Homo sapiens: one gene and its partners. The protein of the gene in region 1 purifies or fractionates together with the protein of each later gene. This does not show direct contact. Each region holds a gene or a part of one and is shown in the gene's direction. Other genes may lie near its edges. The genes, in order: CSNK1G2, SLC20A1, ACVR1B, ZSWIM8, GINS2, HECTD4 and C12orf43.

Region 1 (3,500 bases):
TGGTGTCAGGCGTGCCGGGTCCGCCTCCCCCATCCCGCGGATCTGCAGATCTGCAAATGCTCCGCCGGCAGCCACACGAGAGAACCTGTTGGTTGGCGGCCTCTGTGCAAGGCCGTCTGAGTGAGGCCTGCAGTCTGGAGGCTCCCTAGGTCGGGAGGCTCCGCGTCTGCTTCTTCCTCATTCTGGAGTTCTCGTGGGGCCCGTGCTGTGGGGCTTCCTGGGAAGTGGGTGGAGCGCCCATTTTACAGATGAGGAAGTCGAGGCCTACCTGGCCTGCTTGGGTAGAGGAGAAGGTGGTGTTTCCCGAGGGCTGACTCCCACACCTGTGCTTCTCTGGTCACCCGCCGTGCCAGTGGGAGCAGTGACAGCGAGGGGTGGTGGCCCTGCGGCCAGGGGACGGGCCTCACCGCCTTCCCCATCCTCTCTGCTGGCTCTGTCCAGAGGGCTGTGCCGCCCTGTGACTGGCACGTGGGTGCAGCCGTCTGCTGGGTGGGTCTGTCCGGGAGCTTGACTGGCCTGGCTGGGTGGGGGGGGGTACCCCTTTGTGCTACCTCAGCGAGGGCTCAAAGTGAGGGTCTGGGACCACCAGAACGGTGTATTCAATGCACTGCGGGCAGCCCTGCAGCGGGCAGGGATTGAGTGAGGGGTGGGGCCTGCCTGGCTCCTGGCAAGCACCCGTCTGGCGGGCGGGGCCCAGTGAGCCTCCTCCCTTTGCCGGGTCCTCCTGTAGTGGGGCAGGAACCTCTAGCATCCCACCCTTGCTGCCCTTTTTCTGCCCCGCTCACCACCCACATCAACTTGTCACCAGCAAGGGCATGGGACAAAGCAGGACATGCCCCGGGTGGCCAGCGTGAGCTAGCTGTGCCCAGGAGCATTGCCCATGCTGTCCCCCAGGCACTGTCCTGAAGCCCTGCTGGGTTCTGAGTCCTCCAGGCTCCGCGGCCCCTTCTCGCCCTGCCCAGAGTCTCTGGCCACCACCGCTGCTTGGGGCCCTGCACCAGCCTGTGCGCCCGCAAGGTTGCCAGGGCCCCTCTGCAGGTGCAGCGTGAGCTGTGTCCTGGGCCCACAGGGGAGCCGCTTCTCAGACCCCCGGGCTGGCCCCAGGCTCCCCCGGCAGCACTCAGGCGGCCCTGGCCCCCGGTGCGGCTGACTGTTCGGGGCACGCGTCTGAGGTGTGGGGATCATCTCCCCCTTGCTCAGAGCCCCCAACGTGTCCCCTGCACAGGGAATCGGGGCAGCCCCCTGCCAGCCCTGCCCAGGGATCCCTCCTGTCACCCTCAGGCGTGCTCCTGGGTGGCCCAGCGGCCTCCCTGCACCGTGAGGCCCGAGACAGTTTCGCGTGACATCATGTTGAAAACAGCCAGCTCTGGCCGGGCGCGGGGGCTCCCACCTGTCATCCCAGCACTTTGGGAGGCCGAGGTGGGCGGATCACCTGAGGTCAGGAGTTCAAGACTAGTCTGGCCAACATGGCAAAACCCCATCTCCACTAAAAATACAAAAATTAGCCGGGCGTGGTGGCGTGCGCCCATAATCCCAGCTACTCGAGAGGCTGAGGCAGGAGAATCACTTGAACCCGGGAGGTGGAGGTTTTAGTGAGCCAGGATCGCGCCACTGCACTCCAGCCTGGGCAACAGAGCGAGACTCCGTCTCAAAAAAAAAAAAAAAAAAAGCTGGTTCTCCCTTGATGCGCATCTGCTGAACTTCTGGGGCACGCTGGGGTAGAGCAGTGGGTCCCTCCCTGGAGAGGCCATGGGGTGAGGACCGAAGCTGTGGGTGCCAAGTGGGGCAGGCAGCCCAGTGGAGTGGGGCAAGAGACTCTGGTCTGGCCGGCCTGACCCGTGGGGTATGACTCTTGTTACGGCAGATTCCATCTAGGAGCGGAGGCCACGCGTATGTTCCCGGGAGAGGTGGGAAGTGCATCCCGTGGCCTATCCCGGGGAGGTCACTCCCATTCCATACCTGCAGGGGGAGCTAGCTGCCTCACGTCTGTGTCTCAGGCCGCGCAGAGGAGGGGGCGCAGGTGAGGGCAGCGGGAAGAAAGACTGCAAGAGGCTCGGGGGTCACGGGCCAGGGCTGGCCCATCACTATTTATTCGTTTATTTATTTATTTATTTATTTTTTATTTATTTATTTTTTTTAAGATGGAGTCTTGCACTGTTGCCCAGGCTGGAGTGCAGTGGCCCGATCTCAGCTCACTGCAAGCTCCGCCTCTTGGGTTCACGCCATTCTCCTGCCTCAGCTTCCCGAGTAGCTGGGACTACAGGCGACCGCCACCACGCCTGGCTAGTTTTTTGTACTTTTAGTAGAGACGGGGTTTCACCGTGTTAGCCAGGATGGTCTCGATCTCCTGACCTCGTGATCTGCCCGCCTCGGCCTCCCAAAGTGCTGGGATTACAGGCGTGAGCCACCGCGCCCGGCTATTTATTTATTTATTTATTATTATTATTATTATTTTCTTTGAGATGGAGTCTCGCTCTGTTGCCCAGGCTAGAGTGCAGTGGCGCAATCTTGGCTCACTGCAAGCTCCGCCTCCCGGGTTCACGCCATTCTCCTGCCTCAGCCTCTCCAGCAGCTGGGACTACAGGTACATGCCATCACGCCTGGCTAATTTTTGTATTTTTAGTACAGACGGGGTTTCACTGTGTTAGCCAGGATGGTCTCCATCTCCTGACCTTGTGATCTGCCCGCCTCGGCCTCTCAAAGTGCTGGGATTACAGGCATGAGCCACTGTGCCCGGCCTATTCATTTATTTATTTAGAGACAGAGTCTCGCTCTGTTGTCCATGTTGGCCAAGCTGGTCTTGAACTCCTGACCTCAGGTGATCCACCTGCTTCAGCCTCCCTCATAGCTGGGATTACAGGCGTGAGCCACCGTGCCCGGCCCTATCGCTATTTAAAAGGCAGAGAAAATCTTAGAGGTTTTTTTATTGTCACCAGCGGTGTTTCGTTGATGCGTAATTGCCTTTGGAGGCTTGAAAAAAGTTGTGCTTAAAGGTAATCCCTCAATTATCTGGAAACTTCCACCCTCCAGAGTGAGGCACCCCAAGTCCTGGTCTGGATTCGTGGACAGAGTCCCTGCCTGTGAGGCCTGATGGCCAGTCCTCTCGCCTTGGCCGTGGTGCTTCAGGCCCTGTTGCAGGTGGGACCCGCCCTCCTTAGGGACCTTGTTTCCCAGGTGATGCTCATGTAATCTGCGGTGACCTCTGCCCCTTCCCATCTGACCTCTGTCCCCAGGAAAGATGGCAGGCGTGCGAGGGCTCATCCTGTCCGCGGCAGTTGTGCCCCTCGGGCTTCTGCTCCAGTGGTCCTGGGGCAGGGCAGCTGGCGCTGATGCCCAGGCTCTGCCTGGGGACAGTTCCCAGGACGGGAGCCTGAGGGCAGCGCACGGGACCAGCGTGAGGACACGGACTGGCCCGTGTCTGCCTCTGACTTGCTGGGTGTGCCTTTGAGTTCCTCTGAGGGTGGGTGCGCCGAGGGGGATCCAGCTGGGCCCTGGCCACG
Region 2 (3,500 bases), on another chromosome or scaffold:
GCCTCTGGATTCATTCCGTGCCAAAGAAGGTGAACAGAAGGGCGAAGAAATGGAGAAGCTGACATGGCCTAATGCAGACTCCAAGAAGCGAATTCGAATGGACAGTTACACCAGTTACTGCAATGCTGTGTCTGACCTTCACTCAGCATCTGAGATAGACATGAGTGTCAAGGCAGAGATGGGTCTAGGTGACAGAAAAGGAAGTAATGGCTCTCTAGAAGAATGGTATGACCAGGATAAGCCTGAAGTCTCTCTCCTCTTCCAGTTCCTGCAGATCCTTACAGCCTGCTTTGGGTCATTCGCCCATGGTGGCAATGACGTAAGGTCAGTTGACATTGATCTTAGTGTTGCTAACCCTATTTTTAAACCATTTATCCTTGTCACAGGCCTGTGCTTGTGGTAGTGGTACTCCTAGCATTTACAGGACCCCAAATAATACAAATAGGATGAGGTAATAGCAGTTATTGACATAATAAGACAGTACAGTTTTATTCTTCAGAGGAATTACAAAGAATGTTTATTTTTGTAGATGATAAATATAAACAGATACTCTTCACAGAGAAGGCTTTTGTCCATCAAGATGAGATTCAGTTCTTTGGTAGTGAATTGTGGGATGTAAGATGTAAGATGAAAAACTTAAAAGTTTTTCATATAGAATGATTTTGTAGTTTGGTTTGTAAACTGTTTATTGGAACCTGAGAGTTGCTTTAAGCTGCCTATAGGAGGAAAGAGGCCACCATTTGCCTGGCATTCCCTCCATCAGAGCTGTGTTCATTTTTCTGTTGTGTATGTTGGGGTTCCATTTATGTCTTTAGAAAGAAAGGCCCTTTTGCCAGATGAGCTTGAAAGCTGTACTTTAGACAACCTGGTAGATCATTCAGCAGATTGGGTCTTGCCAAGATCTAGTTCTGCCTGAAAAGTCACTTCTGCCCTCTTTGTTTCTTCCAGCAATGCCATTGGGCCTCTGGTTGCTTTATATTTGGTTTATGACACAGGAGATGTTTCTTCAAAAGTGGCAACACCAATATGGCTTCTACTCTATGGTGGTGTTGGTATCTGTGTTGGTCTGTGGGTTTGGGGAAGAAGAGTTATCCAGACCATGGGGAAGGATCTGACACCGATCACACCCTCTAGGTAAGTAGGTGGAGCAGGTTCTACAAATGTCAGTACTCATTTTTTTCAGAGATATAACACTGTCGAGTGCTAACACAAATCTCTAAAGTAACCAAGTTTGTATAAGTTCATGATGTTCTTATTGTCATTGTTCTTTTTAGATTTTACTTGTCTGGCCCTTAAACATTTTGGTCAGACATTTTACCCATTTAGCTCTGGTGGTCTCTGAAGAAAATGACTTTTCTGAGAAAGCTGTGTATGCTAAGAGCGGATAGTTATGTATACTTGCCTTTTATTTGTCTTGGGAGCTAAGACTCAATGTTTACCAAACTCTTCAAAATAAAAGTGCAAATTTTATTTAATAGTGGGATTCCAGAAAAACGTAAAACTGGAAGCCTTTGAATAAGGAAACTGGGCATCTGTGGCCTGATTTAAATAAAGTAGATCTTAGGGGTTATAGCAAATAAAGATGTCAGTGGAGGTTTTGTGACTGAGTAGAACAAAGCAGGACTGTGTTAACTTGAGGTGTAGTGTTAGCTTCTCAAAAAAGTCAAACTCACTTCCTGACAAGAATCCTTTTGTGTCTGTAGTGGCTTCAGTATTGAACTGGCATCTGCCCTCACTGTGGTGATTGCATCAAATATTGGCCTTCCCATCAGTACAACACATTGTAAAGTAAGTGTAATGCCAATGTGTGTCTTTCAAATGGTTCTTCTAATATGTAGGGTTTTTAGTTTTACTTCTCTGATACTTTGATTTAGAAAGTTTTGTGCAGTTGGAGTCTTGAAGAGTTCATAAGTTATTTCTTGTGTTTATTCTTATTTAAGCAATTAAATAGATATTCTCCCCAAATAATAGAAACATTGTTTTATATACAGCTTACTGTAGTTTCTGGCTACTAACCTCTTCCTTTGTTACTTTATCCTCCCTCATTGTAGTCTCTTTATAATAATTTTTTTTTTAATCTCAAGAGTCATTTCTACTTGGCACCATTATGTTTTATTTATTTATGTATGAGTTGGAGTCTTGCTGTGTCACCTGGGCTGGAGTTCAGTGGCACAATCTCGGCTCATTGCAACCTCCGCCTCCTGGGCTCAAGTGATTCTTGTGCTTCAGCCTCTCAAGTAGCTGGGATTATAGGCACCCGCCACCATGCCTGGCTAATTTTTGTATTTTTAGTAGACACAGGATTTCACCATGTTGGCCAAGCTGGTCATGAACTCCTAACCTCAGGTGATCCACCTGGCTCGGCCTCCCAAAGTGCTAGGATTACATGCGTGAGCCACCGCGCCCGGCCGACAGCATTATGTTCTTTGCCTTTGGGGAAGCCATTCAGAGCAGGGTAGGTGTATGCTTAGAAACTGGCAGGTGCTTTAATTCTGGCCAGGTGGGTTTCTGCTGCCATTTGTGGTGGCTGAAGGCCTGGTTCTAACAAGTCTGTGAGGCTTGCCAAAATGTTGGCAAAGCAGTTTATTTACAGAAGGCATATTTCAGGGCCTCTCAGGATTGAAATACTGAGAAACAAAACAAATCTTAAGGTTGTTTGATGACAATCTAATAATTATAGGAGAAGGAAGAAACTGGTTTCCTTAAGAGCATTTAAGCTGGTCCATCATGGATCCTGCTGAGTCATCTGTTTGCTACCCGGATGTGTCTCCAGACAATTGTTTATTAGGTTTAATATCAGCCACTCTGTAAATAATCTTAGGAAGACTTACAATGCAATTTGTTATTAAAAGCAGTGTATAGGCCAGGTGCAGTGGCTCATGCCTGTAATCCCAGCACTTTGGGAGGCCAAGGCAGGTGGATCACAAGGTCAGGAGTTTGAGACCAGCCTGGCCAACATAGTGAAACCCCATCTCTACTAAAAATACAAAAAATTAGCTAGGCGTGGTGGTGGGTGCCTGTAATCCCAGCACTTGGGAGGCTGAGGCAGGAGAATCACATGAAACCAGGAGGTGGAGGTTGCAGTGAGCCAAGATTGCGCCACTGTACTCCAGCCTGGGCGACAGTGCGAGACTCCGTCTCAAAAAATAAATAAATAAAAGCAGTATATATTCATTAAATTTTAGCAGTAGCTGAGAAGGGGAAAAGAAATAGTTCTTGTGTCCTTTTACTACCGTTAGTATAGATTATGATTGGATTTTCAAATTGCCTTCATTTTCCCAGCTTAACCTGTTGTAAACCAGCTTTCTTGGACTTTGTCTTGTCCAGGGGTCTGGGGCTCCTTGTCCAAACAGTCTCAGGTGTCTGTTTGCCAGAATACCACTGGCACTTCAATAACCTGTTTCCTTGGTCTGCTTCTCTTCTAGGTGGGCTCTGTTGTGTCTGTTGGCTGGCTCCGGTCCAAGAAGGCTGTTGACTGGCGTCTCTTTCGTAACATTTTT
Region 3 (3,500 bases), on another chromosome or scaffold:
CCACATTACAAGTACTTCTGCCAAGAAGTCAAAACATGCTTCAAATAAACAAATCTTTACTCTCTCTTTGTTTTTTTGATATGGAGTTTCGCTCTTGTTGCCCAAGCTGGAGTGCAATGGCACAGTCATGGCTCACTGCAGCCTCCGCCTCCCGGGTTCAAGTGATTCTCCTGCCTCAGCCTCCCGAGTAGCTGGGATTACAGGCGCCTGCCACCATGCCTGGCTAATTTTTTGTATTTGTAATAGAGATGGGGTTTCGCGATGTTGGCCAGGCTGGTCTCCAACTCCTGCCCTCAGGTGATCCGCCCACCTTGGCCTCCCAAAGTGCTGGGATTACAGGCGTGAGCCACCGCACCTGGCCAAATAAACAAATCTTGATGGTTAAAAATAGAGATACACATCAGAGTAGCCTGGTATTGCCAAATCTGTGCTGAAGTATTTAGAATCAAATTTAAAACATGGGAGTTTGCAATGAAGAGATGTGTACACTTCTTCTGCCCCAAGGGACTTTATCAGGGTGATACTCTTCCACATTCAGAGGGCTCCTGAATCAATACTTTGATTTAAAGAGAGCAGTCATCATTTTCTGTGCGTGACCATGTTTGTTTTGCTATTGCAGATACATGGCCCCTGAAGTACTTGATGAAACCATTAATATGAAACACTTTGACTCCTTTAAATGTGCTGATATTTATGCCCTCGGGCTTGTATATTGGGAGATTGCTCGAAGATGCAATTCTGGAGGTACCTTTCTTTTTTGCCTTTGCTCCTACCTCCCATTCCAGGATGCTGGATCACCCAAAGCTGTTTTACTGCCCCCTTTCTTTTTACAACCTGTTGGATGCCTGTTGCCAGAGCCTGAATCATCGTTTAAGGTTGCCATCAAAGGTGTGGAGGTAGCTGTGCTTAGGGTGCGTTTATTCTTCAGGGATCAGTTTGTTGAATAGCGTTGTGTGTTATGGTAACCATTCTGAAGGCTCGTTTGGCTTTATAAACAAACAAACATTGTTTTATTAGTCCGTGGCGGGGAGTGCCCCGGTGCGCATAGCACGGGATTCATGCAGTGGTCTCCTTCACATCAGAAGCAGTATATTCTAACGCGGTGGCTCCCAAGCCACATTCATGGGAAACCCTGCTGTTTCATTGTTAAAATAATAGTGCTAATTTCTAAATTTATAAAAGTGCATAGATTTTTCTTAAAAGTGAGTTTTTTCTCCCATAGTTAAAAATCGTTGGCATTTGCAGCTGCTTATTCATGACAGAATCCAGTAAGAAATAGTATCAGATTTAGCAGAAACACTTTTTATTGTCAACTTAGTATATCAGTATTTTATGATAATTTCCATATATTCTGCCACATGATCAAGTTCCAGGACCTCTAGAGCCCTACTCTCAGCCATTTATCTGTGATATAAGAGATTCCAGGGCAGTGAAAGTGATTGAAAAAAAGAACTGGTGGTGCTCACTTCGCCAGCACATATACTAAAATTGGAACAATACAGAGAAGGTTAGCATGGCCCCTGCACAAGGATGACATGCAAATTCCTGAAGCGTTCCATATTTTTTAAAGACCTAGTATTTGATAGCACCACAGGGTGACTATAGTCAATAATATAATTGTACATTTTAAAATAACTGAAAGAATATAATTAGATTGTTTGTAACACAGTGTAAATGCTTGAAGGGATGGATATCCCATTTTCCCTGATGTGATTATTATGCATTGCATGCCTGTATCAAAACATCTCATGTACCCCATAAGTATATACATCTACTGTGTTCCCACAAAAATTAAAAATTAAAAAAATCTAATCTACAAAAAATATGACAAGTCTTCCAGCAGAACTGTTTTGTATATTAATACCCTTTTCCAGCTTCCATTTATGACATGTTTGGTAAAATCCAAATTATGGAAATAGTGCCCAGGTAGTATTCATGGAATTGTACCTCTTAAATTTTGATCAGTATATGCAGTAAAACAGACTAAGAGGCCAGGCGCAGTGGCTCACGCTTGTAATCCCCAGCACTTTGGGAGGCCAAGGCAGGCGGATCACGAGGTCAAGAGATCGAGACCATCCTGGCCAACATGGTGAAACCCTGTCTCTACTAAAAATACAAAAATTAGCAGGGCATGGTGGTGCACGCCTGTAGTCCCAGCTACTTGGGAGGCTGAGGCAGGAGAACGCTTGAACCCTGGAGGCGGAGTTTGCAGTGAGCCAAGATCGAGCCACTGCATTGCAGCCTTGCGACAGAGCGAGACTCCATCTCAAAGAAAAAACAAACAAACTAAGAAAAATCTGGTCACACAGGTCTTAAACTGTGAATAAGTTTATTTCTTCTTATGACATCCAGAAATTGAGGCTAAATATATAATAATGCTAACATTTATTCACCACTTGCTATGTATAAGCTCATTTAATCTTTACTACTACAAGTAAATAATAAGTAGGTGCTATTATCATCGCCATTTTACAAATGAAGAAAATGAGTCACAGAGAAGTTAGGAAATTTGTCTAAGGTCACATAACTATTTTAGTAAACAAGGGTTCAGACTCGGACAGGCTGAGGCCAGGGCTTAAGCCTGTAACTACCCCTTAGATAATTACCAAGTCCAATTCTCTATTTAAAAATATTTCCCAGGCTGGGCACTGTGTCACACCTGTAATCCCAGCACTTTGAGAGGCCAGGGTGGGCTGATTACCTGAGGCCAGGAGTTTGAGACCAGCTTGGGCTACATGGTGAAACTCTATCTTTACAAAAATAAAAAAATTAGCCAGACATAAAGGCCAGGCATGGTGGCTCACGCCTGTAATCCCAGCACTTTGGGAGGCCAAGGTGGGCGGATCACCTGGGAGTTCGAGACCAGCCTGGCCAATGTGAAGCCCTATCTCTATTAAAAATACAAAAATTAGCCGGGTGTAGTGGCGGGCGCCTGTAATCTCAGCTACTCAGGAGGTTGAGGTAGGAGAGACTCCATCTCTACTTAAAAGAAAAAAAATTGTCTCATTAGCTCAAGACAGCAGGGTTTTTTTGTTTTGTTTTGTTTTTCTTTTTCTGGAAAAGGGCTTGAGAAAAATTAATTGGCTTTTTATTTTTATTTTTTTGAGAGAGGGTTTCTCTTTGTCACCCAGGCTGTATTGCCATGGCACAATCTTAGCTCACTGCAACCTCCGCCTCCTGGGTTCAAGCCAGTCTCCTGCCTCAGCCTCCCGAGTAGCTGGGATTACAGGTGCCCACCACCACTGCGGGCTGATTTTTCTGTTTTTAGTAGTGATGGGGCTTCATTGTGTTGGCCAGGCTGGTCTCGAACTCCTGACCTCAGGTGGTCCACCTGCCTTAGCCTCCCAAAGTGCTAGGATTATAAGCGTGAGCCACTGTGCCTGGCCTAAATTGGCTTTTTAAAACTATCTTTTTATTATGGAAAATCTTTCTAAGTTTGTAGTTCTTAAAGATGAGGACTTAAAAAAATGCAGTGCTATTACCACACTTTAAAAAATGAA
Region 4 (3,500 bases), on another chromosome or scaffold:
GGCCTGGAGGAATCCCGGGACCGGCCCCGACCCCTTCCTACTGAGCCAGCTGTGCGGCCCAAGGAGCCTGGGACCAAGCGAAAGGGCTTGGGTGAGGGGGTCCCCTCATCACAGCGGGGTCCCCGCCGCCTCTCAGCTGAAGGGGGAGATAAAGCTCTACATAAGATGGGTCCAGGTGGGGGCAAAGCCAAGGCACTGGGTGGGGCTGGCAGTGGGAGCAAGGGCTCAGCAGGTGGCGGAAGCAAGCGACGGCTGAGCAGCGAAGACAGCTCCCTGGAGCCAGACCTGGCCGAGATGAGCCTGGATGACAGCAGCCTGGCCCTGGGCGCAGAGGCCAGCACCTTCGGGGGATTCCCTGAGAGCCCTCCACCCTGTCCTCTCCACGGTGGCTCCCGAGGCCCTTCCACTTTCCTTCCTGAGCCCCCAGATACTTATGAAGAAGATGGTGGTGTGTACTTCTCGGAAGGGCCTGAGCCTCCCACAGCCTCTGTTGGCCCCCCTGGCCTACTGCCTGGGGATGTCTGTACCCAGGACGACCTCCCTTCTACAGATGAGAGTGGCAATGGGCTTCCCAAAACCAAAGAGGCAGCCCCTGCAGTTGGAGAGGAGGATGATGACTACCAGGCGTACTATCTGAATGCCCAGGATGGGGCTGGGGGCGAGGAAGAGAAGGCCGAGGGCGGGGCTGGGGAGGAGCACGACCTGTTTGCTGGGCTGAAGCCACTGGAACAGGAGAGTCGCATGGAGGTGAGGGGATGGAAGGAGGGAGGGCTGGGTGCTCCTTAGCCACAACTGGGAGGGGCTATCTAGCTCTAGTTGGGAGTGTCAGGACCATCAGCAGGATTGTGAGAACCCTGTTGCAGGCGCCGAACTGGTCTCCCTGCTTTCAGTCTACTCACTTTTCTGCTTCCACGAGATTTTCCTGAAATGTGATGGTGTCACTCTGCTGCTTAAAACCCTTCAATGGGTTCCTGTTGCCCTTATGATAAAATGAAAGTGGTTGGCATGACCTGTGAGGGTCCACTTGATCTGGTCTTTGCCTGCTTTGCCAGCCTCACTTGGCTGCTCTGTCCTTTGCACTCCAGTCAGCTGAATCACTCATGTATCTGCCATGCTCTCTCTCTTGCCTCCAGGATTTTGGACAGATTGACCTTTCTGCCTGGAATGCTCTTCCCCATTAGCCCGTGTTTCTCCTTCAGGTCTCAGGGATCTTAAAGATCACTTCCTCTAGGGAGTCTCTCTGATACTGTCCCTGTGCCCCAAGATATCCCACCTGCTTCCCCTTGACCTTTCCCTGTAATAGCTGGCATCACGGTGGCATGTGTGTTTATGTGTCTGTCTTTCTAACCAGAGCTCCTATGGAGCGGCACAGGGCCTGGCATGTAGCAAGTGTTCAAGGAATGTTGGCTGCATGAGTGAGCATGATGTCCTGCTCCTGGAAGTTGGGACTTTAACCTGTCTGGTCCCATGTCCTCCTTCCAGGTACTGTTTGCCTGTGCTGAGGCCCTGCATGCGCATGGCTATAGCAGTGAGGCCTCCCGTCTCACTGTGGAGCTTGCCCAGGATCTGCTAGCCAACCCACCCGACCTCAAGGTAGAGCCGCCCCCTGCCAAGGTGAGAGACCCCCTTCCTCTACCTTCCCCTCCCCCACTTACCCCCAACCTGCTCCCATGCCCCACCCCAAGTGAGAGCATCCTTCTACCTCCACCAAGGTAAGTCAGAATCATCTGCCTGTCTCCTGTGTTTCTTCCCTTTCTAGGGCAAGAAGAACAAGGTATCCACGAGCCGTCAGACCTGGGTGGCTACCAACACCCTGAGCAAGGCGGCCTTCCTGTTGACAGTGCTAAGTGAGCGTCCAGAGCACCACAACCTGGCCTTCCGAGTTGGCATGTTTGCCTTGGAGCTACAGAGGCCTCCAGCTTCTACCAAGGCCTTGGAGGTCAGAGGCTCCATCTCAGCCTTGTATTTCAGTCTCTTTAGAGCCTTGCACCTTGATCTCTATTGACACACCAGAGGTCTGAGCTCCTTCCTGTGCCCTCAGGTGAAGCTGGCATACCAGGAGTCTGAGGTGGCTGCCCTGCTCAAGAAGATCCCTCTGGGTCCAAGTGAGATGAGTACCATGCGGTGCCGGGCAGAGGAACTTCGGGAGGGGACACTCTGTGACTATCGGCCTGTGTTGCCTCTCATGCTGGCCAGTTTCATCTTTGACGTTCTCTGTGCTCCAGGTATGATGCCTGACCCTACAGTAAGTGGGGAACTGGGGTAGGGGTAGCTTTCTCTAAGAAAGACCAAGAGCCCCAAGTTTCTGAATCACCTTTAGGACCCATCAGGCAGCTTCATGGGTAGGTCTGTGATGATGAGGATTTTGGGTTCCCCTGTATTTTTTCCCATGCATGATACTTCTGTCTGCCTGACTTACCCCAACTTTTATACAGTGGTTTCTCCCACAGGTTCCCGGCCCCCAAGTCGCAACTGGAACAGCGAGACACCTGGGGATGAGGAGCTTGGATTTGAAGCAGCAGTTGCTGCCTTGGGTGAGTCTTGAGCATATCAACGAGCTAAGCCTGGTTCAGGTCTTGAAGGACATGAGACCTGTGCCTTGTTGTGAAGGGCTGTATGGTAATGGGAAGGTCAGGATGACATGTGTGAGCCAACTAGTGCCTGTAAGACAGGAATTCAGGGCAAAAATGTGTGCTATATGGCTGGGCGTGGTGGCCCATGCTTGTAATCGCAGCGCTTTGGGAGGCTGAAGCAGGAGGATTGTTTGAGCTCAGGAGTTCATGACCAGCCTGGGCAACCTAGCAAGACCTCATCTCTACTTAAAAAAAAAAAAAAAAAAAAAAAAAAAATTAGCCAGGTGTGGTGGCACATGCCTTGTGCTGCCAGCTACTCCAGAGGCTGAAGTGGGAGAATTGCTTTAGCCTGGAGATTGAGGCTGCAGTGAACTGTGATTGCACCACTGCCCTCTAGCCTGGGCAACAGAGTGAAACCTTGTCTCAAACAAAGAAAAAAAAAATTGTGTGCTATGGGTATTGGGTATTGTAAGGGCAGCAAAACAAAAATCTAGAGAAAGGCCTAAGGGAAGTGGTAGAATATGGAATGTGGGTTAAAAGATCAGTAGGTCCTAAACCAGCGAACACCATGAGTAAATACACAACGCAATCAAGTTTTCATGAGAATGAGGAGGCCAGCTTCCCTAAAATGATAAGTACATGCTGGGTAAGCAGATTGGACCTGGTTATGAAGGTTTTGAAAAGCACACCAGAGCTTAGGCTGGATATAATAGTCAACGAAGACTTCTATAGGTGATGTGGGTTGGACCAAGGGAACCCCTTACTTCATATGCTGATGGCTTGGGAACCCTGGCCTCTTACCTTTGCTGTCTTGGGAATTATGACTACTCTCAATCCCCATAAGGTCCTCTTTCTCGCAGGCATGAAGACAACAGTGAGCGAGGCAGAACATCCCCTCTTATGTGAAGGCACACGTCGGGAGAAGGG
Region 5 (4,224 bases), on another chromosome or scaffold:
TGCCTCGGCCTCCCAAAGTGCTGGGATTACAGGCGTGCCTGGCCAAGAGTATGTGTCTTCACACATGAAAGTAACTCAGCGAAAACTCCAGATCTGTAAATAACAACTTCTAAGGCAGATACACAACAGACACAGCTTTGTGAGCAGGCCTGTGAGCTTTACGGCTTTTTTTCACCTTCCCAGTGACCCTCTATGGGGCTTCAGGGAGGTTGGAGAGGAGAGCATCCGGTTAGCTGGGGCGGGGGCAGGGGGTGCTTTCTGCTGGAATTCCAAACCCTGGAATCCTCATGTCTCCTGTGATTTTTCTCGCGGGCCTAATTATCAAGGTTTCAAATTCGACTGCAGTCCTAGAATAGCGCTTCACCCCCAGGAAGCTTTTCCGGCCATGACCACCCCATCAAAATCACCTGGCCCTGGATGAAATTCAGCTTTCTGTCCTTTCCACGACTCCGGAATCCCAACTCCCAGGAGCGTGCACACAGACAATGGGCACCCGCTAGGGGATTCTGACACAGGTGAGCTCCAGCCACCGCTCTGGCTTCACCTGCGCCCACTGTACAGGGGCAGCCGGTCCAGCGAGCAGGTGAGTATTTGCTCAGGTGGTGCAAACCTGCCGCTCCTGTCTCATGTGGGGCTCCTGCCGAAGTGCAAATTCTGAGCTCCTGCTCTGAAGTGTCCGAATTGGAAGCTGTGGGGTGGGATGGAGGAATCTGCATTTTTACAGCTGTTTTAAACAATGTGTGCAGAGAGGGCAGAAGATTGTGAAATTAATGGAAACAAGGTCTTCCCTCATCCCTCTATCTGTCAGCCCGGGTGATGCCTAGTCCCGGGCCCGGTGCTGAGTTTGGGCCAATAAATGCTTGTACTCTTGGCCTGGCACGATGGCTCCCACCTGTAATCCCAGCACTTTGGGAAGTCGAGATGGGAGGATCGCTGGAGACCGGAAGTTCAAGACCAGCCTGAGCAACACAGCAAGATCCCAAATCCACGAAAAGTTGTTTAAAAATTAAAATAAAATAAATGCGTTTACTCTTGGCCCCATGCGGAACGCCGGCGTAGAAGCGGCCCGGAACCCCACCCCCGGCTCTTGATTAGGGCCGTTTGCGGCGGGCGCCGGGGACAGGTGAAGGGACACCAAAGCTGGCGCCCGCGGCAGGAGATCCTGACAGCGCCAGGTGCACGCCCACGGGCGGGGCGGGGCCGGGGTGGGGGCGGGGCCTGTCCGCGGGCCGGGGCGGGGCCGGCGCGCAGCCTCCCTCGGCCTTGCCAATCCGCGGGCTCTTCGCGAGCGCGGTCTCCGCCCCCCCGCCCGCAGACAGCGCCTATAGGCTGTCTACCGCCTTCCTATAGGCTGGCGCAGGCCGTCTTCCGGCCGGGGCGGGCTCTCGCCGTGGCGGGAAAACGGCGGCCGCGGCGTCTCCTCCGGGACGCTGAGGGGCCCGAGGAGACCGTGAGGCTCTGGCCTGCAGCTCGCGCCGCCATGGACGCTGCCGAGGTCGAATTCCTCGCCGAGAAGGAGCTGGTTACCATTATCCCCAACTTCAGTCTGGACAAGATCTACCTCATCGGGGTGAGGCCTGGGCCCGCCGTGGGGAGGGGAGGCCGGGCTGGGCGCGTCCGGGGCTCCCGCGTGGCCTTCAGCCCCGGGGTCGCGGGCTCGCCCTGCTCCCGCATCTGCGGAGGCCACCACTCGGCGCTTGACTCGCTCACCGCCGTTCCCGCTTCTCGGATGAGGAAAGCGAGACTGCGCTCTTTGCCAGTGCCCCGAACGCCCGGGTTTACAGGGTTTTTTTGATCTGTTTGGGGGCTTTTTTGGTTTGTTTTTTGGTTTTTGAGGTGGAGTGTCACTCTGTCGCCCAGGCTGGAGTGCAGTGGTGCCGTCTCGGCTCACTGCAGCCTCCGCCTCCCGGGTTCAAGCGATTCTCCTGCCTCAGCCTCCTGAGTAGCTGCTGTTACAGGTGCCCGCCACCACGCCCGGCGCATTTTTGTATTTTTGGTAGAGATGTGGTTTCACCGTGTTGGCCAGGCTGGTCTCGAACTCCTGACCTCATGAGCCACTCGCCTCGGCCTCCCAAAGTGCTGGGATGACAGGCGGGAGCCACTGCGCCCGGCTTATTTATTTGGTAGAGATGCGGCTGGCCTCGAACTCCTGGGCTCCCCAGGCGATCCTCCCACGTCGGCCTCCCAAAGGGCTGGGATTATGGGCAAAAGTCGGCTTTGCCTCTGTTTGTTTTTGTCTTTATCTTTGAGATGGAGTTTCGCTCTATCGCCCGGGCGGGAATGCAGTGGCGCGATCTCGGCTCACTGCGGCCTCCGCCTCCCGGGTTCAGGTGATTCTCCTGCCTCAGCCTCCCGAGTAGCTGGATTGTGAGCCCCCGCGCCCGCCCGGCTTTGCGTTTTCAGTATGAGGGAGGCGCCTCGGCGCTGGGAGTCCTGGAGAAGGAGGGCAGGCTCTGTACCTGCCCAGACCCACCTCCCCGCACCCCAGGACCCCAACATTGGGTGTGTGAAACCTGTTCCGGAGTTGGAGGGTGCAGGCGGGAGAGGGAGCGCCCCCCACCCACTCAGGGGAGACTTGCATCCTGTCCGCGGAAAGGCCAGAAGGACTGAGCCCCACGCTCGCAGGTGTCTCGGAGCCGCTCAGGAGGCGCTTTGTTCTGAGTCTGGTAACAGTTGGGTTTTTATTATTTGCATTTGGACTTCAGCCTCTGCAATGCCTTGCCTCTTATTTGATAGCAGTAACGCACAGTAATGCTTTTTTTGTTCTTTTTCAATCTTACGGGGAATTGTTTTACTTTTGGCAGGGGGACCTGGGGCCTTTTAACCCTGGTTTACCCGTGGAAGTGCCCCTGTGGCTGGCGATTAACCTGAAACAAAGACAGAAATGTCGCCTGCTCCCTCCAGAGTGGATGGATGTAGGTAAGGATGTGGTGGAGACTGGTTGATGCGTGGGTGGGGCTGGGCTTGGGGTGACGCCCTCTCCCACGGGGTGGAGGCATGGGGCCTCCTTCCTGACTAGGTCCGTGCTCCCTCTGTTCCGTTATCTACTGATCAGCTGAAAGGAATACTTCCAGATTCACCTCTCAGCAGAGTCTGCTAACCACTGTTAGTAATGTCATGTTAGGTTTTGGTGTGTGTGAAAGTTGTAGTTTGTTTTTTGAGACGGGTCTGACTCCATCACCCAGGCTGGAGAGCAGTGGTGCAATCTCGGCTCAATGCAGCCTTCACCTCCTGGGTTCAAGTGATCCTCCTGCCTCAGCCTCCCAAGTAGCTGGGACCACTGGCGTGCGCCACCACACCCTGCAAATTTTTGCGTTTTTGTAGAGATGGGGTCTTGCCATGCTGCCCAGGCTGGTCTCAAACTCCTGGGGTCAAGCGATCTGGCCACCTTGGCAGATCTGCTGGGATTATAGGCGTGAGCCACTGTGCCCAGCCTATATTTTAATGTAAGATATTTCAATTTGCTTTAAAATAAATATATGACCTTAAATAAGCATTTGTTTTAAAATTTTAAAAATAAGTATAGATTAGCATGTTGAGAAGCAGTTATAGAGAATGCATGAAAATAATATATCACAATAAGGTTGAATATTATTCAGCTATAAAAAGGAATGGAATTCTGATACATGCTACTGCGTGGATGAACCTGAAACATCTTAAAGATCTTGCTGAATGAAAGAAACCAGGCACAAAAGGCCGCACACTGTATCATTCCATTTCTATCAACTGTCTAGAATAGGCAAATCAATAGAGACAATGTAGATTAGTAGTTGCTTAAGTATGGGGGTCTTGCTTTGGGTGATGGAGGGATTGTGGAGTTTCTTTTTGGCATGATGAAAATTGGGATTGATGGAGGTAATGGTTGCCCAAGTCTGAATATACTAAACACCATTGACTTGTACACTTTGTTTTTAATAGCCCACAAGTGCTACTAAAACTTGTATACTTTTTTTTTTTTTTTGAGACAGAGTCTCGCTCTGTCGCCCAGGCTGGAGTGCAGTGGTGCGATCTCGGCTCACTGCAAGCTCCACCTCCTGGGTTCACACCATTCTCCCGCGTCAGCCTCCCAAGTAGCTGGGACTACAGGCGCCCGCTACCACGCTCGGCTAATTTTGTTTTTGTATTTTTAGTAGAGACTGGGTTTCACCGTGTTAGCCAGGTTGGTCTCAATCTCCTGACCTCGTGATCCACCCACCTCAAAACTTGTATACTTTAAATGGCTGA
Region 6 (3,500 bases), on another chromosome or scaffold:
ATTTTTTTTTTTTTTTTGTATTTTTAGTAGAGATGCGGTTTCGCCATATTGGCCAGGGTGGACTTGAACTGCTGACCTCAAGTGATCCAGCCGCCTCTACCTCTCAAAGTTTTGGGATTACAGACGTGAGCCACCACGACCGGCTTAGGAAATTTTTTTAAAATGTTGAAATAAATATACATTTAAGAGAAATAAAAAAGCAATAACTCAAAAATAACATCTCAAATGTTATTGCATTTTGCATTGCATTTCATAGAACATTATTCTTTTTAAGATAAAGGGAATTTAAGAGGGGGAAAAGAAGGAATAGCTTACTTGTGAGAATTCCAAAAGCATTCTGCTTCCTATTCCATTTTTCTTTACAAACTGCGGTTGGGAACAAGCAGGCATCGTATATAAGAGTATTGACAGAGAAGCTGATTGACTTACCCAAGGTGGCTAAGATATTTCTTACTCCACAGTTGAAGTTCATTTTAAATTTAAGCATTTTGGTTAGTGCTTCTCATATTTCATTGTGTTTGCTTTTAAGTACTCCCTCTCCACCCCGCCCCACACCACACAAAGACTTGAACGTGAATGTTCAAGTCAGCTTTATTTGTGATTGCCCAAAGCTGGAAACAATCCAAATGTCCGTCAGCAGGTGAATGGATAAACAAATGTGGTACATCCATACAATGGAGTATTACTCAGCAACAAAAACGAATGAACCGTTGGTACTCACAACATGGATTTATGCAGAGTGGAAGAAACCAGACAAACAGGAGTATATACTGTAAGACTCCATTTCTATGAAATTCTAGAAATGCAGACTAATCTGTAGTGGTTACCTGGGGATAGAGGCAGGCAGGCAGGAAAGGATGAGAGGGACGGAGTATAAAGGAGCATGAAGAAACTTTTGGGGCGATGGCTCTTTCCCTATTTTGATTGTGGTGATGGTTTCACATTTGTATATGTATGTCAAAACTCATTAAATCACACACTTTAAATATGTGCAGTTTACTGTACGCCAATTATATGTTAATTAACAAATGGAACCTAATAGATGCAAAGGGTTTTTGTTTATTATTTTGTTTTGCCAGATAAGAAAAGGGGCATTTGGGTTTGAAGTTGATCAGCTGAAATCATCAAGGCTTTAAATACTTATCATACACTCAAGTGAAATCTTTGAGATGATATTTAGATTTATGTTGGTCTATTCTCCTAGGAGGACACTGCTAGCCTATATATCCTTTGGGCAAAATCCTTTGGAAAGTGTTTATGTACTTTTATAGAATTCTAGATTTGGATGAGTTAATGAATAAGCGAATAAACTACCCTTGTTCACCAGTAGTGTTGATTACCATGCAATTAATGAGCACTGTAATAGGAGTCACTGAATCTTGGTGCAGTATTCTGTGAGCTTGGGCAAAAGGCCCAACAGGCTTTCAGGCTTGTCTGGCTCGAGCTGTAAAATGAGAATGAAGTATTTGAGGGCTGTGGGAGACAGTATTGCCTTGAAGTTAAAGTCAGGTTTAAAGAGTCAAACTGGGATTGAAATTCTAGCTCTGCTCCTTGCTTGCTGTATGACCTTGGGCAAATTCCATACCTTTTTTTAAACATATTTTTCTAGAGACAGGTTCTCACTCTGTCACTGGCTGGAGAGCAGTGGTGTGATCATAGTTCACTGCAGCCTCACACTCCTGTGCTTTAAGTGGTCTTCCCACCTTAGCCTCCTGAGTAGCTGGGACTACCGGTGTGCTACTAATTTTTTAATGTTTTATAGAGATGGAGTCATGCTGTGTTGCTCAGGCTGGTTGTGAACTCCTGGCCTCAAGCAATCCTCCTGTCTCAGTCTCCCAAAGTGCTGGGAATACAGGTGTGAGCCACTGCACCTGGCCAAATTCCATACCTTCAGAAATCACTAGTTACTTTTTTTTTTTTTTTTTTTTGAGACAGAGTCTCGTTCTGTCACCTAGGCTGGAGCGCAATAGCACGATCGCAGCTCACTGCAACCTTCGCCTCCCGGGTTCAAGTGGTTCTCCTGCCTCAGCCTCCCGAGTAGTTGGGATTACAGGCATGCATCACCATGCCTGGCTAATTTTATATTTTTAGCAGACACAGGGTTTCACAATGTTGGCCAGGCTGGTCTGGAACTCCTGACCTCTGGTGATCTGCCCACCTCAGCCTCCCAAAGTGCTGGGATTATATGTGTGAGCCACTGCGCTCAGCCCCTAGTTATCTTCTGGTGCATCTTCTTAGTCATCATTGTCACTATCTCTACCACTCCCACGACAACAGCGCCAGCATATTGAGTGGTATGTTCTGTGCTAAGTACTTCACATCCATTATTTTATTTGATCCTCACAAAAAACATGAGGTTGGTACTGGATTATCTTTACTTTTATTATTTTTGTTTTGTTTTGTTTGTTTTGAAATGGAGTCTTACTTTGTCGCCCAGGCTGGAGTGCAGTGGCGTGATCTCGGCTCACTGCAACCTCCGCCTCCTGGGTTCAAGTGATTCTTCTGCCTCAGCCTCCCGAGTAACTCCCGTGCCACCACACCTGGCTATTTTTTGTATTTTTAGTAGAGACGGGGTTTCACCATGTTGGCCAGGCTAACTCCTGACCTCAAGTGATCCACCCTCCTTGGCCTCCCAAGTGTTGGAATTTCAGGCGTCAGCCACCGTGCCTGGCCAAGGATTATCTTTATTTTATAAATGAGGAAACTGGCACAGACAAAAGTTAAGTAACTTGACAAAGGTAAGATAGTTAGTGGCAAAGCTAAGACTGAAATAGGTCTGTCTGATTCCAGCCCTGAGTCCATATTCTTGAACTATTATGTTATACTATCATCATCTAAAAGAGTGGGATAATGATAGGGCTAATGTCAGAATTAAAAAGATGGAGGTGGCCAGATATGGTGTCTCATGCCTGTAATCTCAGCACTATGGGAGGGCAAGGAGTGGACTGGAGTTCAAGACCAGCCTGGACAACATGGCAAAACTCTCTCCCTACAAACAAATACAATAAAATTAGCTGGGCGTGGTGGCATGCACTTGTAGTCCCAGCTACTCAGGAGGCTGAGGCTGAAAAATTACTTGAGCCTAGGAGGCAAAGGTTGTAGTAGGCGAAGACTGTCACTGTACTCCAGCCTGGGTGACAGAGCCAGACCCTGTCTCAAAAAAACCAAACAAAAATAACAATAATAATAATAAGATGGATGTGGGCTGAGTGTGGTGGCTCATGCCTGTAATTCCAGCACTTGAGAGGCCAAAGCAGGAGAATTGCTTGAGGCCAGGAGTTCAAGACCAGCCTGGGCAACATAGCAAGATCCCATCTCTACAAAACATTTTAAAATTAGCTAGACATGGGCCAGGTGCAGTGGCTCATGCCTGTAATCCCAGCACTTTGGGAGGCAGAGGTGGGCGGATCACACGAGGTCAGGTGGGCGGATCACGAGGTCAGGAGATCGAGACCATCTTCGCTAACACGGTGAAACCCCGTCTCTACTAAAAAAATACA
Region 7 (3,251 bases), on another chromosome or scaffold:
TGGCCAACATGGCGAGACCCCATCTCTACTAAAAATACAAAAATTAGCTGAGCATGTTGACACACGCCCGTAATCCCAGCTACTCAGGAGGCTGAGGTGGGAGAATCGCTTGAACCCAGGAGGTGCAGGTTGCAGTGAGCCGAGATTGCGCCACTGCACTCTAGCCTAAGCAATGGAGCAAGACCCTATCTCAAAAAAAAAAAAAGAAAAAGAAAAAGAAAAGAAGTAGAAGCTCATGGCCAGGGATGGTGGCTCACACCTGTAATCCCAGCACTTTGGGAGGCCGAGGCAGGTGGATCACTTGAGCCGAGTTCCAGACCAGCCTAGGCAACATGGTGAAACCTCGTCTCTATAAAAAAAAGAATACAAAAATTAGTTGGGCATGGTAGTGAGCGCCTGTGAGGCTGCTTGTGAGGCTGAGGTGGGAGGATCCCTTTAGTCCAGGAGTTCAAGGCTGCAGTGAGCTGTATAATGCCACTGCAGTCCAGCCTGGGTGACAGTGAGACCCTGTCTCCAAAACAAAATTTTTTTAAAAAGTAGAAGCTTGAGGTTAAGATGAAATCTGGCTTTGTCATTAGAGTCTCAGCAGAGCAAGAAAAGCAGAGATGTGGGGTGTGAGAGCGTGGGTGCTGGAGCCTGTCTCCTCTTCGCAGGCCTCTGGCCTGCCCCAGCCTCCCGCTACCTGCCCAAACCCCATCTGAATGATTTGTGGACAAGCAAGAAGTTTCCACCGCATTTCTCCTTGACTTTACTAAAAGTTAAATAAACGTGCCACTCGCCCCGGCTGGCTACAAGCTGCAGGGGGTGCCGGGTCACCCCAGGCCTTTTCCTGAATCCCAGGGTAGACGCGGTACACTGAAGGCCAGGTTCTCAGCAGCAGGCCCAGGGATGTGGGACCATGCTTGTCCTGGGTTCACAGGCTCCTTTGTCCCTCCTGGCAGTGCTCAGGACCTCAGACTCCTCAGGGTGGCTGCGAACTGCCCTCAGCCAGCCAGGCCCCCAGGCTTCTGAGTGTTAGTCCTGTCCACACAGGTAGCTCCTGTGCCCTGGGGTCACCTCTTTCTTCTCCTGGGCACCTCAGCTTGGCCAGTTCCCCGGCCCTGCTCAGCTGCTCGGGCCTTGCTGCCTTGTGAGCTCAGCTACTCCTGCCCCAAACAAGGGCAGGGTCTGCAGGGCGCTCGAGACAGAGGAGCTGCCCCACCAGGACCTGGACTTGGCACGGGTTGCGAGGCTCCCACAGGAGTAAGGACGACTTCCCAGCCCCGAAGTAGCCTTCCCAGTAGAGGCAGGAGGCCAGGCTGGCCTCAGAGGCATGATGCTCTTGGGAACAAATACAGGAAAGCTGGAGGTCATGGGGCCTGGGAGAGGGAATCGCTGGGGATGGGAAGCCAGGAGAGCCCTGCCTGCCTTCCCTGTTAGCTTCGGCCTCCCTGGGCTCAGGCGTTAGAGCCCCAGGCTCTGGCACAGAGTAGCCACCCAGGAAATGCCTGTGTGAGTAGGTGATGGGGTCAGTACAAATGGCATGTGGGTCACTAGCTGGAAGGAGTTGGGGCAGGAAGGAGTGGCCCGGTGGGTACATTGGTGACAGAACAAGGCCACGCTGATCCAGGGCCTCTCAGAGCTCAGCAGGTCACAGCTACACAGGCCTGTGTCCTGAGAAGTGTGGCTGCCAGAGTGGTGTAGCGGTCCCAGGGCTCTCCATAGGCCCAGGCTGGGGGTGCCCAAGTCATAGGCCGCCCCCTTCAGTTCCAAGTAAGAAGACTGTATCCCACGAAGCAGCGACAGTCCCTCCTACATCTGCCATGAACAGGCTTTGCTCCTAGCTCTCCACGACCCCCTCCTGTGCACCCCGAGCAGCCTCCACGGGTTGGGGCGCCTCAGAGCCCTCCCTTTCTGATGCATCAGAGCAGAGTGGGGAGCGAGGCACAGCTGTCCAGGAAGGGCCACGGTTGCTCGGCAGGCTCAGGTCCTCCAGGCAGGGCTGGCTGCTGCCCTCATCACCCCCCAAGCAGGCAGTACAGGCCCCAGGGCCCAGGTGCCGTGGTTACTGGGAGGAAGAGGCCATCTGGGTGGAGATGAAGGTCTCGATGACGCTGTGGTTGGATGGCAGCAGGTGGCTCTGGCCATTGCTGGAGTCTGAGCTCTGGTACAGCACCAGGCTGCTGGAGGACACTGCAGAGGCAAACAAGGCTGCTAGCCACCCACCAGGCACCCACACCCACCCCACCTGCCTGTCCCTAGGGGTACTCAGGATGGGGAGGCAGGGCCACACCTCCTGGATCACAGCAGATAACAGGAACCCCAAAGTCACACCTCTACCCTCGGTTCTTCAAAGGGAGCCTCCCAGCCAGGGTCCACGGCCGCCCATGGAGTGGCCTGAGTACATCTTAGTGTGAACACTGGAGAAGCCCCGGTGAGATGCCGAGGTAGGTAGTTGTACGTGTTGGCTTGGCTAGGCTGAGTCAAACACTAATCTAGGCGCTGCTGTGAATGCAGGTGCTTTGTAGATGTGGTTAATGCCACAATCAGTTGGCTTTGAGTGAAGGAGATTACCCTGAAAATATGGGTGGGCCTCCTACATCAGTGGAAGGCCGTAAGAGCAAAAACCGGTTTCCCAGAGAAGGAATTCTGCCTCAAGGCTGCAGAATTCACTCCCCAGAGCTGCCAGCAACAGATTTCAGGCCTGCCAGCCCCCCGCAGACACGGGCCAAGTCCTTCAAATAAATCTGTTGGTTCTGTGTTCCTGGAGAACCCTGACTGATGGCAATGGTTAAGAGAATGGGCTTTGAGGTGGGACCTGGGTTCGAGTCCTGGCCCTGCCATCTGGTAGCTGTGGGAGATGAGGCAAGTCCCTCCCCTCCTTGAGTGTCCACTTTCTCATCTGTAAAATGGGGGTGGTCATGGACACGCCTCATGGGGTGAATGCCAGGACACAGAATGGCCTCAGTGGCTGTCATGACAGCTGCCAGGGCCGGGTCCAGGAACCTTATAGAAAGGGGGCAGCTTGCAAAAAGGCAGGCTGCAAAGCCCACCCACCTGACTCCAAAGTGCCCACTCCTGACAATGGCATCATAGATTACAAACTCAGGTGACCGCCCCACCGCCAGGGGTCATTGGAGCCGATGTGAGTGGATGCAGTGAGGCCTGGTGCACTGTTATATGGGAATATGAATTTTTCCAATTTTCCAAAAGATGCCAGAAATCTGGATTTCTATGTGAAAATTCCTGATTTTGAAATGTTGGCAACAAAT

Evidence for each region.
Region 2: the proteins of CSNK1G2 (region 1) and SLC20A1 purify together in Homo sapiens (affinity purification with mass spectrometry; one large-scale study listed by BioGRID and IntAct). This does not show direct contact.
Region 3: the proteins of CSNK1G2 (region 1) and ACVR1B purify together in Homo sapiens (affinity purification with mass spectrometry; one large-scale study listed by BioGRID and IntAct). This does not show direct contact.
Region 4: the proteins of CSNK1G2 (region 1) and ZSWIM8 purify together in Homo sapiens (affinity purification with mass spectrometry; one large-scale study listed by BioGRID and IntAct). This does not show direct contact.
Region 5: the proteins of CSNK1G2 (region 1) and GINS2 purify together in Homo sapiens (affinity purification with mass spectrometry; 2 studies listed by BioGRID and IntAct, with this or other methods). This does not show direct contact.
Region 6: the proteins of CSNK1G2 (region 1) and HECTD4 purify together in Homo sapiens (affinity purification with mass spectrometry, with the first as the bait; one large-scale study listed by BioGRID). This does not show direct contact.
Region 7: the proteins of CSNK1G2 (region 1) and C12orf43 purify together in Homo sapiens (affinity purification with mass spectrometry; one large-scale study listed by BioGRID and IntAct). This does not show direct contact.

The regions. Positions count from the first base shown.
Region 1 is NC_000019.10:1,944,172-1,947,671, forward strand, and holds part of CSNK1G2 (casein kinase I), read left to right. Parts: intron 1-3,500. UniProt on the Homo sapiens protein: Serine/threonine-protein kinase. Casein kinases are operationally defined by their preferential utilization of acidic proteins such as caseins as substrates. It can phosphorylate a large number of proteins. Participates in Wnt signaling.
Region 2 is NC_000002.12:112,659,439-112,662,938, forward strand, and holds part of SLC20A1 (sodium-dependent phosphate transporter 1), read left to right. Parts: coding exon 1-324; intron 325-948; coding exon 949-1,134; intron 1,135-1,703; coding exon 1,704-1,788; intron 1,789-3,425; coding exon 3,426-3,500. UniProt on the Homo sapiens protein: Sodium-phosphate symporter which preferentially transports the monovalent form of phosphate with a stoichiometry of two sodium ions per phosphate ion. May play a role in extracellular matrix and cartilage calcification as well as in vascular calcification.
Region 3 is NC_000012.12:51,986,199-51,989,698, forward strand, and holds part of ACVR1B (activin receptor type-1B isoform a precursor), read left to right. Parts: intron 1-619; coding exon 620-744; intron 745-3,500. UniProt on the Homo sapiens protein: Transmembrane serine/threonine kinase activin type-1 receptor forming an activin receptor complex with activin receptor type-2 (ACVR2A or ACVR2B).
Region 4 is NC_000010.11:73,792,106-73,795,605, forward strand, and holds part of ZSWIM8 (zinc finger SWIM domain-containing protein 8), read left to right. Parts: coding exon 1-747; intron 748-1,482; coding exon 1,483-1,614; intron 1,615-1,759; coding exon 1,760-1,939; intron 1,940-2,041; coding exon 2,042-2,225; intron 2,226-2,435; coding exon 2,436-2,534; intron 2,535-3,433; coding exon 3,434-3,500. UniProt on the Homo sapiens protein: Substrate recognition component of a SCF-like E3 ubiquitin-protein ligase complex that promotes target-directed microRNA degradation (TDMD), a process that mediates degradation of microRNAs (miRNAs).
Region 5 is NC_000016.10:85,686,155-85,690,378, reverse strand, and holds the start of GINS2 (DNA replication complex GINS protein PSF2), read left to right. Parts: upstream 1-1,424; 5' UTR 1,425-1,480; coding exon 1,481-1,570; intron 1,571-2,804; coding exon 2,805-2,919; intron 2,920-4,224. UniProt on the Homo sapiens protein: Required for correct functioning of the GINS complex, a complex that plays an essential role in the initiation of DNA replication, and progression of DNA replication forks.
Region 6 is NC_000012.12:112,372,432-112,375,931, reverse strand, and holds part of HECTD4 (probable E3 ubiquitin-protein ligase HECTD4), read left to right. Parts: intron 1-3,500.
Region 7 is NC_000012.12:120,999,986-121,003,236, reverse strand, and holds the end of C12orf43 (protein CUSTOS), read left to right. Parts: 3' UTR 1-2,044; coding exon of another isoform or gene 2,045-2,172; 3' UTR 2,173-2,751; downstream 2,752-3,251. Other genes in the region: HNF1A (hepatocyte nuclear factor 1-alpha), read right to left, coding at 2,045-2,172. UniProt on the Homo sapiens protein: Plays a role in the regulation of Wnt signaling pathway during early development.